Homo sapiens: one gene and its partner. The protein of the gene in region 1 interacts with the protein of each later gene in a pairwise test. Each region holds a gene or a part of one and is shown on either strand. Other genes may lie near its edges.

Region 1 (7,277 bases):
GACCAGGTCCACAGTCTCCACAGTACCTGCTCCCAAGAACTTTCTGTACTTCTGAGGGGACAGATAAAGGGGCCTGGAACAGGGCTGCCAACCGGTCTGCCTGCCCCACCCCCTTTTCCGGTGCCACGCTGAGGTGGGGGCCGACTGGGTCTCTCTACTGACATTGTTCCAGGCATAGTGCTGCAGCCAGGGGCTGGATGCAGGCCTTCAGTGTGAAGAGAGGACCCCTCCCCTTCTGGCCTGGGCTCAGGACTTTTGGCCTTGGTCCTGCTGAGACGCCAAGGTTGGGAGAAGCCCCAGGCCCAGCCTCTCTGAGCCCAGGAGCTAGTGCATTTGAGACTCTCAGCTCTCGAGCCCAGGAGTTGGAGGTCTGCTCTCAAGAGGTAGCGGAAGGAGCCCTGCACGCTGTGCTCACGCCCACCCCTGCCGCGTAGCTGCCTCTGCTTCTGCTACCCATGGGCCAGCATCTGTCGAGGTGCAGTAGCCTGAGAGCCAGCCTTTCTCTGCCATGGACAGAGCCAGGCCAGGGGATCGGGGCTCAGCGGGGGAGCCAGAATCCAGGAGGTGGGGTGAACAGTGGCTTCCTGTCCACCAGCCCCCATGGAAGGAGAGCCCACATCTGCCCATCCACTGCTGGGTGGGCACAGCTTGGGAATCAATGCCTGGCCCCACGGCAGGCACAGCTGCTGCTTCCATCCTGGGCTGGGAGGAAAGGAGCCCAGCCTGTGTGGGGCAGTGGCTGACTTCTGCTTCTCTGCCTGCTCCCTCCTGAGGCCTGGCCCAGTCCCTCGCTAGCCCCCCACAGCACTGGGCCACAGGCAGCCAGGCATCTCCATCCTCAGGCCCATCCCCTTTGGGTGAGAGAAAGGGCCTCGGATGACCAGGACAGGGCGAGCATGAACTCTGCAGTCAGCTGGACCAGGCTAGGAATTCAGGCTCTGCCAGGCATTGGCTGTATGATCTTAGACAAGTCACTTAAACTCAGCCTCAGTTTTCTCATCTGTGAAGTGGGGAGAAGGAGGTCCCTGACAAAGAGGGGTTGCTGGCAGACCTAGGCTTGGGAAGTCACTCTCACAGGCCCTCCTCCCTCTGCCCTCGGACTCCCTCCTGGGGATCCCCCTTGGGACACCCCACCACCACTTCCCTCGGTGCCTGTTAAGTGCTTTGACCCTCCAATATTGGTCACTGGCAAGCAGTGCAGAGACCCCAGCACCTCCCATACCCCAGCCCCAGCCCCCAGCCGCAGCCGCCCACAATGGGGGCTTCTCACAGCTGAAAGGGCTCATTCAGCCACCATGCAGCAGCCCGGACAATCTGGAGAAGAAAATAAACATTTCTTTCCACTGTTGGGATTGGCCACTCGACAGTGCCCCGGGCAGCTCGGGTTTCCTGGGGCTGCGAGGCCGCAGGGTGGGGGTACAGGAGCTCCAAGGAAGCTGCTGGGGGGTCTGAGGGAGTGCTGAGGGCAGGTACTTCCCCCACCACCCCGGAGGAGGGGTGGTGGCCCTGAGGAAAGAGGCTGGAGGGGATGGTGGCAGGTCCAGGGAGGCCCAGCCCAGCGCCCTGCAGCCCGCGTGAGCTCTGAGGGGCACAGTCCTGCCGTTGTATCCTGCGGTCCCCATTTGTTTCCTTCGTCTTGAGAATGGGGTTCCCATCAGGCGGCCAGCACCCACTTCCACCCCACCCATCTCAGCTGTGCTGACGTGCCCAGCACCTGCAACAGGACCTCTCCCCCCGAGGGGCTCCCCAGATGAAAACTGGCAGCCAGGTGCCTCGGAGGCTCTCGGCCTCAAGGGGCCGGGACAGCCAAGTGACCTACTAGGGAACATCCCAGATGTCCCAGAAGGCCCCCGCCACCCAGACTGCTGTCCCCACATCTTCTTACCTTAAGCCAGGAGCATCACTCCGTTCGGATCCACGCCCAGGGCCAGAGTACGCTGCTGAGGGAAACATACCCCAGCTGACTTGGGAAGACCCCAAAGCCCCGAGAAGTTCCAAGTCCCAGCCGAAGTCACACACACCTCAGGCTCATAGCTCTCCGTCCTCAGCCAAGCCTCGGCGTGGCAGGCAGAGCCCACTCCGGCTAGCACCGGCCCTTATCCTTTGGTGGGTGACACAGAGGGGTTGCTGGGCTGGACAGACTGCACCTCTGGACCACTGCTGGGGGCTCATCCACCTCCCCCGGCTGCCAGAGTAGAAGGGAGGCCCTGCACCAGGGCCTCAACTTGGCAGGGCCCTGAATGAGCCAGTTCTCCTGGGTACCCAGAGTAAGAGACACCACAGCCACAGTGGCCTTGCAAAGCCTCATGGACCCCTGCTCTGTGCCCAGTGCCATTCTAAGTACTCGATGTGAATTAACTGAATCCTGATGAACTGTTATCGTCTCATGTTTTATATGGGGAAACTGATGCGCAGAGAGGTTAAGTGACTTGCCCAAGGACACAAAGCTAGTAAGTGTCCAAACCAGGATAACTGTCCGGCTCCAGAAGCCACACAGTAAGCCTTGATCCTGTGCTGCCTCAAAGACGGGACAGCTCCCTCTCAAGTACGTGTTGGGGCTCAGGACCAGAGGCCCTAGGATTGTGTGCCAGGTCCAATGTGCTGTGTGACCCTGAGGGAAGTGCCTCACCCTGTCTGGGCCTCAGTTTCCCCATCAAGGGTGTTAGACTCAATCCCTGAGCCCCTTTGAATGCTGAGGTTTTGGGGGTCTGTGATGACAAAAGTTGGGGACAGAGGATGGAACACCCTTGCCTTGGAGCCCATTGAGAAGCCACATTCCTGGGGGAGCAGGGGCAGAGTCTGGGCTGGACACTGTGACCAGGTTGGGGTCTGGGTCCCCAAGTTTGTCTGACTGCTGTCTCACTTTGCTGCCAAGGCAGGTTAGGGTGGCATCCAGTCACTGTGTGGCCACGAGTCGGCTCCAGAGACACAGGCCCAGGGTGAGGTGGAGGCCAGAGCTCCTGTGAACTCAGTGCCCACAACCCAGGTGTGAGCGCACAGAACCTCCGCGTGCTGCACCTGGGCAGGAGAGGCACGTGTGTCCCCAGCAGAGGCCTTGTGATGAGAACCAGTCCTTTCTCTGCCACAGAGACTCAGTCTTGCTCTCTCTCTGCCTCCATTTTCTTGTCTTCAAAAGCGGGTTCCAACTCCCAGTCTCACACGGTCATTGGAGCCCTTTACACATCCACGGCCTTCCCAGCTGTTAACATGGGCCGGTGGGGAGAGGAACCTGCCTGGGCAGGGCTGCTGGGAGGCCTGAGCTGACTCTGCCCTCAGCCCCACCACCGCATCCTAGGCCTCTCCTCTGCGAGGCTGGGAAGGAGGATTTAAAAAGAAGAATAGACCCCCTCCTCTGTTCTGTTGCTGCTGTGGGGGGGCTCCCATGGCCCCTCTTGGCCCGGGGCACGCTCCAACCAGCTTCCCGGCAGGTCTGTGTTCGGAGTCCTGGCGGGGGAGGCCCCGGGCAGCCTAGGGCAGGAAGAGGAGAGCCAGGTCTAGAACTAGGGGTCCCCCAGATGGGCCTTGGGAACCAGAGCCCAAGGTCATTCTTCAGGAAGCCCTCCTGGGGTTGTCTCGAGCTGGAACTGACCTCTTCCCTGCTGTCCTCCAGGCACCTCGGAACTGAACCCATTCTCCGACCCCCGCCAGTTTGACCGCTCCTTCCCCACGCTGCCAACCCTCACGGAGAGCCGCTTCCCAGACCCCAGGATGCATTATCCCGGGGCCATGTCAGCTGCCTTCCCCTACAGCGCCACGCCCTCGGGCACGAGCATCAGCAGCCTCAGCGTGGCGGGCATGCCGGCCACCAGCCGCTTCCACCATACCTACCTCCCGCCACCCTACCCGGGGGCCCCGCAGAACCAGAGCGGGCCCTTCCAGGCCAACCCGTCCCCCTACCACCTCTACTACGGGACATCCTCTGGCTCCTACCAGTTCTCCATGGTGGCCGGCAGCAGCAGTGGGGGCGACCGCTCACCTACCCGCATGCTGGCCTCTTGCACCAGCAGCGCTGCCTCTGTCGCCGCCGGCAACCTCATGAACCCCAGCCTGGGCGGCCAGAGTGATGGCGTGGAGGCCGACGGCAGCCACAGCAACTCACCCACGGCCCTGAGCACGCCAGGCCGCATGGATGAGGCCGTGTGGCGGCCCTACTGACCGCCCTGGTGGACTCCTCCCGCTGGAGGCGGGGACCCTAACAACCTTCAAGACCAGTGATGGGCCGGCTCCGAGGCTCCGGGCGGGAATGGGACCTGCGCTCCAGGGTGGTCTCGGTCCCAGGGTGGTCCCAGCTGGTGGGAGCCTCTGGCTGCATCTGTGCAGCCACATCCTTGTACAGAGGCATAGGTTACCACCCCCACCCCGGCCCGGGATACTGCCCCCGGCCCAGATCCTGGCCGTCTCATCCCATACTTCTGTGGGGAATCAGCCTCCTGCCACCCCCCCGGAAGGACCTCACTGTCTCCAGCTATGCCCAGTGCTGCATGGGACCCATGTCTCCTGGGACAGAGGCCATCTCTCTTCCAGAGAGAGGCAGCATTGGCCCACAGGATAAGCCTCAGGCCCTGGGAAACCTCCCGACCCCTGCACCTTCGTTGGAGCCCCTGCATCCCCTGGGTCCAGCCCCCTCTGCATTTACACAGATTTGAGTCAGAACTGGAAAGTGTCCCCCACCCCCACCACCCTCGAGCGGGGTTCCCCTCATTGTACAGATGGGGCAGGACCCAGCACGCTGCTGGCAGAGATGGTTTGAGAACACATCCAAGCCAGTCCCCCCAGCCCAGCTTCCCCTCCGTTCCTAACTGTTGGCTTTCCCCCAGCCGCACGGGTCCCAGGCCCCAGAGAAGATGAGTCTATGGCATCAGGTTCTTAAACCCAGGAAAGCACCTACAGACCGGCTCCTCCATGCACTTTACCAGCTCAACGCATCCACTCTCTGTTCTCTTGGCAGGGCGGGGGAGGGGGGATAGGAGGTCCCCTTTCCCCTAGGTGGTCTCATAATTCCATTTGTGGAGAGAACAGGAGGGCCAGATAGATAGGTCCTAGCAGAAGGCATTGAGGTGAGGGATCATTTTGGGTCAGACATCAATGTCCCTGTCCCCCCTGGGTCCAGCCAAGCTGTGCCCCATCCCCCAAGCCTCCTGGGAGGATCCAGCCAAATCTTGCGACTCCTGGCACACACCTGTCTGTAACCTGTTTTGTGCTCTGAAAGCAAATAGTCCTGAGCAAAAAAAAAAAAAAAACAAAAAAACAAAAAAAAAACAAAACAGTTTTTAAAACTGATTTTAGAAAAAGAAGCTTAATCTAACGTTTTCAAACACAAGGTCTCTTACAGGTATAGTTCCGTGATTATGATAGCTCTGTGATTATAAGCAACATCCCCGCCCCCTCTCCCCCCCGCGGACCCCCAGCTGCCTCCTGAGGGTGTGGGGTTATTAGGGTCTCAATACTTTCTCAAGGGGCTACACTCCCCATCAGGCAGCATCCCACCAGCCTGCACCACAGGCTCCCCTGGGAGGACGAGGGAAACGCTGATGAGACGCTGGGCATCTCTCCTCTGTGGCTCTAGGACATCTGTCCAGGAGGCTGGGCGGAGGTGGGCAGGATGTGAGAGGTGGGGAGTACTGGCTGTGCGTGGCAGGACAGAAGCACTGTAAAGGGCTCTCCAGCCGCAGCTCAGCTGCACTGCGTTCCGAGGTGAAGTCTTGCCCCTGAATTTTGCAAAATGGGAAAGTGGGCGCTTGCCCAAGGGCCAGGCTGCATGGATTCTCACATCAGAGTTCTCTGGCCCTAGAAAGGCTTAGAAAAGGCGTAAGGGAACTCATAAAGGCTAGCAGCATGCGGTATTTTAACTTTCTGCCTCGGCCTCTGTGGATGCAGAAATCTGCCCTACAAAATGCTCTTCATTGGTTGTCTCTGTGAGAGCACTGTCCCCACCCAACCTGTCACAACGGCCAGAACCATACACCAGAGACACACTGGCAGGTTAGGCAGTCCTTCTGGTGATCCTATTCCATTCCCTCCTGCTGCGGTTTCTCTTGGCCTGTCCTCACTGGAAAAACAGTCTCCATCTCCTCAAAATAGTTGCTGACTCCCTGCACCCAAGGGGCCTCTCCATGCCTTCTTAGGAAGCAGCTATGAATCCATTGTCCTTGTAGTTTCTTCCCTCCTGTTCTCTGGTTATAGCTGGTCCCAGGTCAGCGTGGGAGGCACCTTTGGGTTCCCAGTGCCCAGCACTTTGTAGTCTCATCCCAGATTACTAACCCTTCCTGATCCTGGAGAGGCAGGGATAGTAAATAAATTGCTCTTCCTACCCCATCCCCCATCCCCTGACAAAAAGTGACGGCAGCCGTACTGAGTCTGTAAGGCCCAAAGTGGGTACAGACAGCCTGGGCTGGTAAAAGTAGGTCCTTATTTACAAGGCTGCGTTAAAGTTGTACTAGGCAAACACACTGATGTAGGAAGCACGAGGAAAGGAAGACGTTTTGATATAGTGTTACTGTGAGCCTGTCAGTAGTGGGTACCAATCTTTTGTGACATATTGTCATGCTGAGGTGTGACACCTGCTGCACTCATCTGATGTAAAACCATCCCAGAGCTGGCGAGAGGATGGAGCTGGGTGGAAACTGCTTTGCACTATCGTTTGCTTGGTGTTTGTTTTTAACGCACAACTTGCTTGTACAGTAAACTGTCTTCTGTACTATTTAACTGTAAAATGGAATTTTGACTGATTTGTTACAATAATATAACTCTGAGATGTGTGGAAGGAGTCCAGTGCCCGGTTTCTAGGGCTATGCATGGAGGTGGGGTGGGGTGGGGGAGAGGATGGAGACCTCCTGCTGTTGCCCAGGAGGAACAGGAACAGAGACACCCAGCACCTTCATCTCCTTGCTTCCAACTTCTTCAGGAATGGCCGCAGAGACCACCCTGGCCACAGGACAGCCGGTGAGGCCTGCTCCTGTATGGCTGGGACCCCAGGAGAGCATCAAATAGGTCTTCAAAGTGCCACAACCCTTCCACCAATCATGAGCGGGCTGTGAGTCTTCCCAGCCGTGTTGGGAGGAATTCCTATGCCTGTTCCTCAGATTCACATTTCGGGAGGGGGCAGAGGCAGAGGGAGAGTCCAAGTGCCTTGGTGAGAACCCCCCTCTGAGGCTCGTGTTTCAAGATCTGTGGCAAGCTAGCAGCAGTGGGGATTGGGAGTAAGCGGCAACTTCAGTGCCCCCATTTTGCAGATGAGACAACTGCGGTGCAAAGAAGGAGTGTCATCAAGGTCCATG
Region 2 (7,277 bases), on another chromosome or scaffold:
GAAAATGGGTAGGAAGGAGTCTAACAAATGGAGATTGAAAAACTGTGGAGGAACAATGTGAGGAGGGGTGTGGAGGACTAGCCTAGGTATAATTGCCAAGTAGTGTTGTTTTGATACTTGAGGTCTGTAAAGGGGAGTGGTGGAAAAGGGGGAAGGCAGGCGTTCACACCAGAATGTGAAGAAGCCTGAATGCCATATGAAGATGCCACTTCTCAGGACAAGTTGCTTCCGTGTGCTTATGGTAACAGTCTAGGGTAACAAAGGAAGAAAACATTTACGTGCCAGTTTTACTGAAGGACAAGATAACATATTTTATAGATTTAGTTTAATACAAACTTTAGTCCTTCATTATAGTAGACACCCCTTAAAGCACTGCTAAATGGCCCTTACTTGTGTATGTTGTTAATCTTTATAGAAATCAGTTTTTTAAAAGTAAAGTGAATTCCAAGTTTTTATTTTGTACCAGCTATTACGTGATAGGAAATGAGATAAAGCCTTAGTTTTTCTTTTGAGGGCTGTGTTTATTTGGTTAATAAGGAAATGTTGAATTTAATTATGTCTTAGATCATGGAGACAAATTGCTGGCTCTTCCATTTAAACCTTGTATTTTCCCAGAGTTGACAATACTGTTAAAAGTATGTCATCATCCTCTATCTTAAAAGCAGAAAATCTGGTCCTTTTGCTGTTCTGAACCATACAACTTGTGGATCATTGACCCCTTTGCCACCCCCATGTCCCAGCAGCATAGTAATAAACCTGTAAAGTGTTTGCTCACTCGTATGGAGAACGAAGTGACTTCTAATGTTCACATTCTTTTACAGTATTATATTTCCCCACGGGAGAGAATCTGTCCTAAGTAAGTAAAACAGGGCAAATCATTTCATTTTCTTGTTTGCTTTGAAGGAGCTAAACTTTCATCCTTAAGATTAAATTATCCATTTCTGCCATTTTATGTATTACCTGAAGCCATAATTTTCTATTTGACATCTCTTAATTGATTTTGGAAATAATTATGTCACAGATGGAGACATTTATGACTTCAGCTCTGAAGCAAAGAGCAGGACAAATGGAATTCTGAGTCACATAGACTAGCAACTCATGTAGATGGCCTCTGAGTTCCAGTGTTTTTCTAAAACACAAACTACCGCTTTTGATACTGATGAAAGTTGGCAGAGTGTTTGACCTCGAATTTATACTCCCCAGTAGCATATGGTCATTTGTAAATGTTAAATTGGCCTTGTTTTTTAAAGCATTGCATCTGTTGTGAAACAACAATACTGTAAAATAAAGCCAGGAACTGAAGAGGCTTGTTGATATAATCAAAGAAGTTTTAGAATATGGACATCAAAAATAAACCTGACAACAGATTTTAAGACCTAATTTTATAAACTTAGAACGTCTCTGTTTTTAAGTATAGTACCTGCAAGACATATTAACAGTGATTAACAGGTCTAATTTTAGTCAGCAGGTTTTGTTCCAATTTGTACAGTCATTTATATCCATTTAGACTAAAAAGTGAATTAAAATAGAACTGTATACCCATTCTTAATACATTATAAATTAATACTAAATGTCATAAATTCAGTTGTTTAGAGACTTGTAACCCAAGATTTTGTATTACTATTAGGATAAATGTGTATCTTTCATTAGACTTTAATTAATGGTCTATGTGTGTTCTCTAGCCACATAGTCTAGAAAAGTCGTCTCTAGCTTCTTTTTATTGTACACCCTGTCCAAAAAAAATGTGCATACTCCCAATATCTGGATATTTATGTATGAATAGTAAGTGTGCTTAATATATTACACATTATAAAACAAAATTCTTTATTAACAATTAATACTTTACACTGTTTCAATTTGTCTTCCCAATTTCTTAGGGTGGAACCACCCTTCAAGCTCTAACACAACTGAAATAGGGTTTATACGTCTGTGACCAGGAGAAAAAGAGAAAGCTTGGTCTTGCTGTACATAAATTTTCTCTTCAAGGAGAAGTACATATTTCATGAGAATAAATAGTTTCAGAATGATGCTACAGCACAGTGTCTTTTTCTTTTATGGGGATGAGGGTGCATTGTTGGACTTCTCTTTGCTTAGTACTATGTTAGGTGCTTCACCAGTGCCGTTTAACCCTGCTAGGTGGTTACTGCCGTTTAGAGAGGTAGAAACAGAGGTTCTGAGAGCTAACTTGCTCAAATAGTTGAGATTGGATTTAGCATAGTTTGACATCAGAAATAAAATTCTTTGTACTCTACATTGCCACTTCAGTATTGAAGCATTCTGCTCTGGAAGGTTAGTATTTTGGATTAACTTGTGCCCTAATCGTAGGATACTGAATTTCTAATATGCATAATTTAAAATACCACTATCCAAATTAGTTTACTTGATAAAATTTTGGTGTCTGTACTACCCACAAGGCACAGTTTTAATTGTAATATAGTTCTAATGTGTCCAGCTAAAAATTTACTGTCATTTGTAGTACAGAAAGTTAATTTGCGTATATATATAGACACTAGCTTTAAAAATTAAATATTACAATTTTTCTAGGCTTTAAAATTTAAATTTCGTTAATAATGGTTTGTATTAGTTCTGGGACCCTTGAGAAGGGTTCAGTTACTGTAATTGTTTTTGCAAATGGGTGGGGAATCTACTGCCTTTCTTCCTGCCTTATTCAGCTAATGAACTATTCTGATTCACTAGGGAGGAAATGGGAAATGAAGTGGTAATTCAAGGGTGTATTTTGTACCCCTTGGTTACCAACAACCTGAAAATGATCCAGGGAACCAAGTATTTGTGTTAGTCTGTTAGAGATTTCTATCTAGAAAATTTTCAAACAATGTTTATAGGTTGGAATTCTAGGTGGTTCTTTACAGCGTAAGTTTTTAAGGAAAGGTAGCATTTAGTTATAAGGGAATGCTTAATATATTGCTGATTTGGTTTTGAATACTTTTGCCTTAAACATAAAAATGTTTTAGTATGTGTATTTTAATATCGTAGCTTATACAATATGTAAAAATACCTATTGTAGCTACACCAAACTGCCTGTGACAGTCTCTGTTCAGCTGTGGTATATTGGAAAGAACCAAATCAGAAATAGATATTCCTGTGCCAATAACTCACTGTGTAATCTTGAACAAGTCACTTAAACTCCCTAGGCTTCAGATTCCTCTTTTGCACCTGGGCATAATCATATCTACAATTCCTGTAGAGACTCTGGAAGATAAAGAAATCGACATATATGAAACTGTAAGTGCTAAGCACATTACTTTTGTTAAGGTAAATCTGAAATTAATTTGGAACCACCGTTTAATCATGTCCACCTTTTTTGGCTTTAGCAGATAGTTTGACTCATTATATTCTTCCAATGTAATAGAACTAGAACCAACGGATATCTGAATGCCTTTTAGATACTTGGCACTTCTGTCAAGATGGGCTTGTTATGCTGTGGTTAACAAAGAACTCTGACACCTCAGTGTTAAAACAACTATGGTTTATTTCTTGTTCATAGGGGCTCTGCTCATTTTAGTCATTCAGGGACACAGGCCAACAGCAGCCACCATCTCCAGTGTTACTGATCTTCTGTTGTGCCAGAAGATGAAAGACTACAGCATAGCACATACTGGTCTTAAAATGTTAGATCCGGAAGTAATGCTTATCACATCTGCTCATATTTCATTAAAGCAAATCATCTGGCCACACCTAACTTCAAAAGGCTGAGAAAGTATATGACAACTATGTGCCCACAAGGAGAGCCATGATGACTACTACAGTACTATTTTATAATTTATAGGATTGTTATAGAATTCTAAACAGTGTCATTCCTGCCATGTAGAATTTGTAACCAAACTCAAGATGAGAAAGTAGATAATGTTCATAAGATACTAAAGGAGTGTATTTGCACTTAAAAATAAAAAAAGCTTTTTAAGAAGCTCCAAGTAGATCATGGATAGTTATGTTTAAATCTCCATTGATATTCAGGTGATCCTTAAGTGATACCTTTTTTATTAAACTGCATTCTTAATGCTTCCCAAGTAGCTTATATGCCATAATTTGTGGATTTACTTTTAACATTTTCCCCATGCTACCATTAGTTACTATATAGAGACTTACAAAGATTAAATCTGATATTTAAGCCTTGAAAATAATTTTCTAATGTTAGGATTACCAAACCCAGATATACTAAATTGAATGTATGCATAGTCTAATACTGTTTGAGTAGTTCAAGTCTTTATTCTATAACTGACTTTGAGAATTTTAAGTTACACTAACTATAGGACCTCTTCCATGCCAGTGTTTGAGATGTAAGGACACTTCAAGTGTTTGTTGCCCTTGTCCGGTAAGTACGGACTACAATTCCTCATTGCATGCAGAGAAGCCTGGTTTGGTCACAAGTAAAGTCTATCATGGAATAATAAGACTAAGCCTTAAAATAATAAAAGAAAATCCTTTAATGAAAACTGCAGATGTAGTTGAAGGTAAGCATAAGTAATTTGGTCTTGAACATGATTGAAGGGGAAGTGGGGAGGGAATGGCTTCAAACAACTAGAAAAGATCTCCCAAAATGGTTACCAATGTAAAAGTATATATTTGCATTTGGGGCTGACCTTTTTATTATTATTTCCCTTCTCTGTGCCTCCCTTTCCCTTTGCCTTCTCTTCTGCCTTTCTACCAGTGCCATTTAGTATAATGCAGGAAAGGACATTGGACTTGGAGTTAGAAACCTTGTGTTTTGCACTTGCTGCCTGTGACCTTGGATAAATCACTTAACCTCTCTGAGCCTGTTTTCTCTTCTGGAAAAAACCTACTTCATCTACTTGTTCTTCCAGGTTTCTCTCTCCCCTCTCCCTCATTTGTTGTGAGGATCAAGTCTGAGAAGATAGCATTAGTAGAAATTGACAGTACAATTGAAAGTACAGAGATGATAAATTATATATCAGATAAGGTAAATTTTTACTGCTAAATTTCTTTTATACTCTGAACAAATGCTAGTTAAAGCCAAAAAATGTCATTTTAGTAAGTTTTTCGTAGGCTATACCAATAAATTATGTAAGTTATATTTTTTAAATTTATAATATGTCTTAAAATTTATTTAAAATCAGAGCTTTGGAAATGTATTTCCTGGCAAAGAACTAAGCAAGTCTGGAAGAGAATCATTTACAAATGAATCTAATTCCATTGTATGGTACCCAGACAGATAATTCTAAGGTTTCTGTTAACATTCTCCAAAGAGCATGAACATAATTTCAAGCTCCCCAGTTAGGAAAACTTCTGCCTTTCATCTCTAATTTACACCCTCTTCTGGTTTTTTCTTTCAGGTTTACTGAAAGGCCAAATAATAAAACTTTTCATTAAATATTTTTTATTGTCTTGTCTAAAATAAGTGAAAAAAGAGGGGTTTTAGATTTAATTTAACTTCTGTTTTTTAAAATACCTTGTACATGCAGGGAATTCTTCTCCACTCCTAAAAATACACTAGAAATATTCTTATTGGGATTTAGGAAAATAAGGCAGCTTGAGAGAACATTGGTTTAGGGGTCACTAGTTTATAACTGGACAATTTTAGGCTTCGGTTTTCCTCATGTCTAAAATGAGATTTAACTAGGTGGTCTGTCACATTTCTTATATTCTGATTTTTGTCCAAAGAGAGTCCCTAAAATGAGGTAAAAGTAAACCAGATTTCATATTACCAGTTAGATTGACTTTGCAAAATCTTCTCAATTTTGCAAAGTTTATGATATGTTTTATCTTTAGGAGTTTCTTTAAATGTTTTTAACTCCCTATAAAAATCAGTTCACTTGTCTTTTAATAACAACAAACTTGTGTCAGGCACTGTGCAAAAACTACATGTGTCATCTCATTTAATCCATTCTTAATTCCACCGAACAGATAAACAAGTCTATGGAGTTACAAACAACTTATCCAAGGTCTCAAGCCATTATTGTTTGAGACTTCAACGTGCCTATCTCAGTAAGTGGTAGAACAAGTAGACAAAAATCAGCAAGGATATTGTAGAAGATCTGACTACTGTCACCAACCAACAGTATAAGAAAAGAAAATAGGTCACTATGTGTACATGAACATGTATCACTAAATACTTTCAGTGCTTGAAGTTAATACAAGTCAGTGAAGGTAGAACTGAATCTTAGTCATCTTTGCATTATTAATATTGGTTAAAGTACCTAAAACAAAGTGGAATACTTCCTTTTTATTTTATTGAACTAAATTTTTTTCTTATAAACTTGCCATTTTATTGTTTATATCATTGTACTTTCCATATTGTTTTAATTGGGGTTTTCTTCCCTCTTGCCTTTATTCCCAGCATTTTTTTTAATTTTTTTTTTTTTTGAGACAGGGTCTCACTCTGTCGCCCAGGCTGGAGTGCAGTAGAGCAATCTCAGCTCATTGCAACCTCCGCCTCCCAGGCTCAAGTGATCCCCAGTAGCTGGGACGGTAAGTGCACACCACCACGCCTGGCTAGTTTTTTGTATTTTTGGTAGAGACGGGGTTTTACTATGTTGCCCAGGCTGGTCTTGAACTTCTGAGCTGAAGCTGAGCTCAAGCAGTCCACCCACCTCGGCCTCCCAAAGTGCTGGGATTACAGGCATAAGTCACCACAACTGGCCAAACAGCTTTTTATGTAAGGACCCAGTCAACCTCAAGTTGTTTGGCACTTTTGTTTGAAGTACAGTAGATGCTACTTGATTGAAGGCATTAAATGTTTATATGAATACTGATAATGAAACTAAAATCACATAAATGAAGGTGTTTGAAGTATTGTCATAGTAATCCCTAAAGTGAGACAAACAGTATTCTTGCCTTAAAATAGCTACAAGGAGGCCACTTGAACCCTAGAAAGGAAAGCTATTAGTTTTATATTATGCATTTAGGAATACATTGCATTCTTAAATTATTACTTAAAATGTTGAATTAATGTTGTGTACATGAAACATTCTTACTGGGATTTAGTTGATACTCATTAGTCTTTGAAGATAGAATACTAGAATTGATTAATAGAACTAATGGCAATTCCATATTTACTGTAACACCTTAATACAGTATTTTATGTGTTTCTATAAAATGAAAGGAGCTTTTGAATATTCTGTCTAGACTATTCCAAGGGGAAAGGGACCTTATTTTGTATAAAATTATTAATACAACCCCTTCATTCATTCTTATATATCATGAAACGTGAGATGATTTAGGGTTTTTGTTTGTTTTTGTTTTTGTTTTTTTTGAGACGGAGTTTCGCTCTTATTGCCCAGGCTGGAGTGCAGTAGTGT

The links.
Region 2: the proteins of RUNX3 (region 1) and MEX3C interact in binary tests that used the Homo sapiens proteins (3 or more experiments, as listed by UniProt).

Annotation. Positions count from the first base shown.
Region 1 is NC_000001.11:24,899,000-24,906,276, reverse strand, and holds the end of RUNX3 (runt-related transcription factor 3), read left to right. Parts: intron 1-3,610; coding exon 3,611-4,155; 3' UTR 4,156-6,766; downstream 6,767-7,277. UniProt on the Homo sapiens protein: Forms the heterodimeric complex core-binding factor (CBF) with CBFB.
Region 2 is NC_000018.10:51,187,663-51,194,939, reverse strand, and holds part of MEX3C (RNA-binding E3 ubiquitin-protein ligase MEX3C), read left to right. Parts: intron 1-1,877; coding exon of another isoform or gene 1,878-1,933; exon of another isoform or gene 1,934-2,034; intron 2,035-7,277. UniProt on the Homo sapiens protein: E3 ubiquitin ligase responsible for the post-transcriptional regulation of common HLA-A allotypes. Binds to the 3' UTR of HLA-A2 mRNA, and regulates its levels by promoting mRNA decay.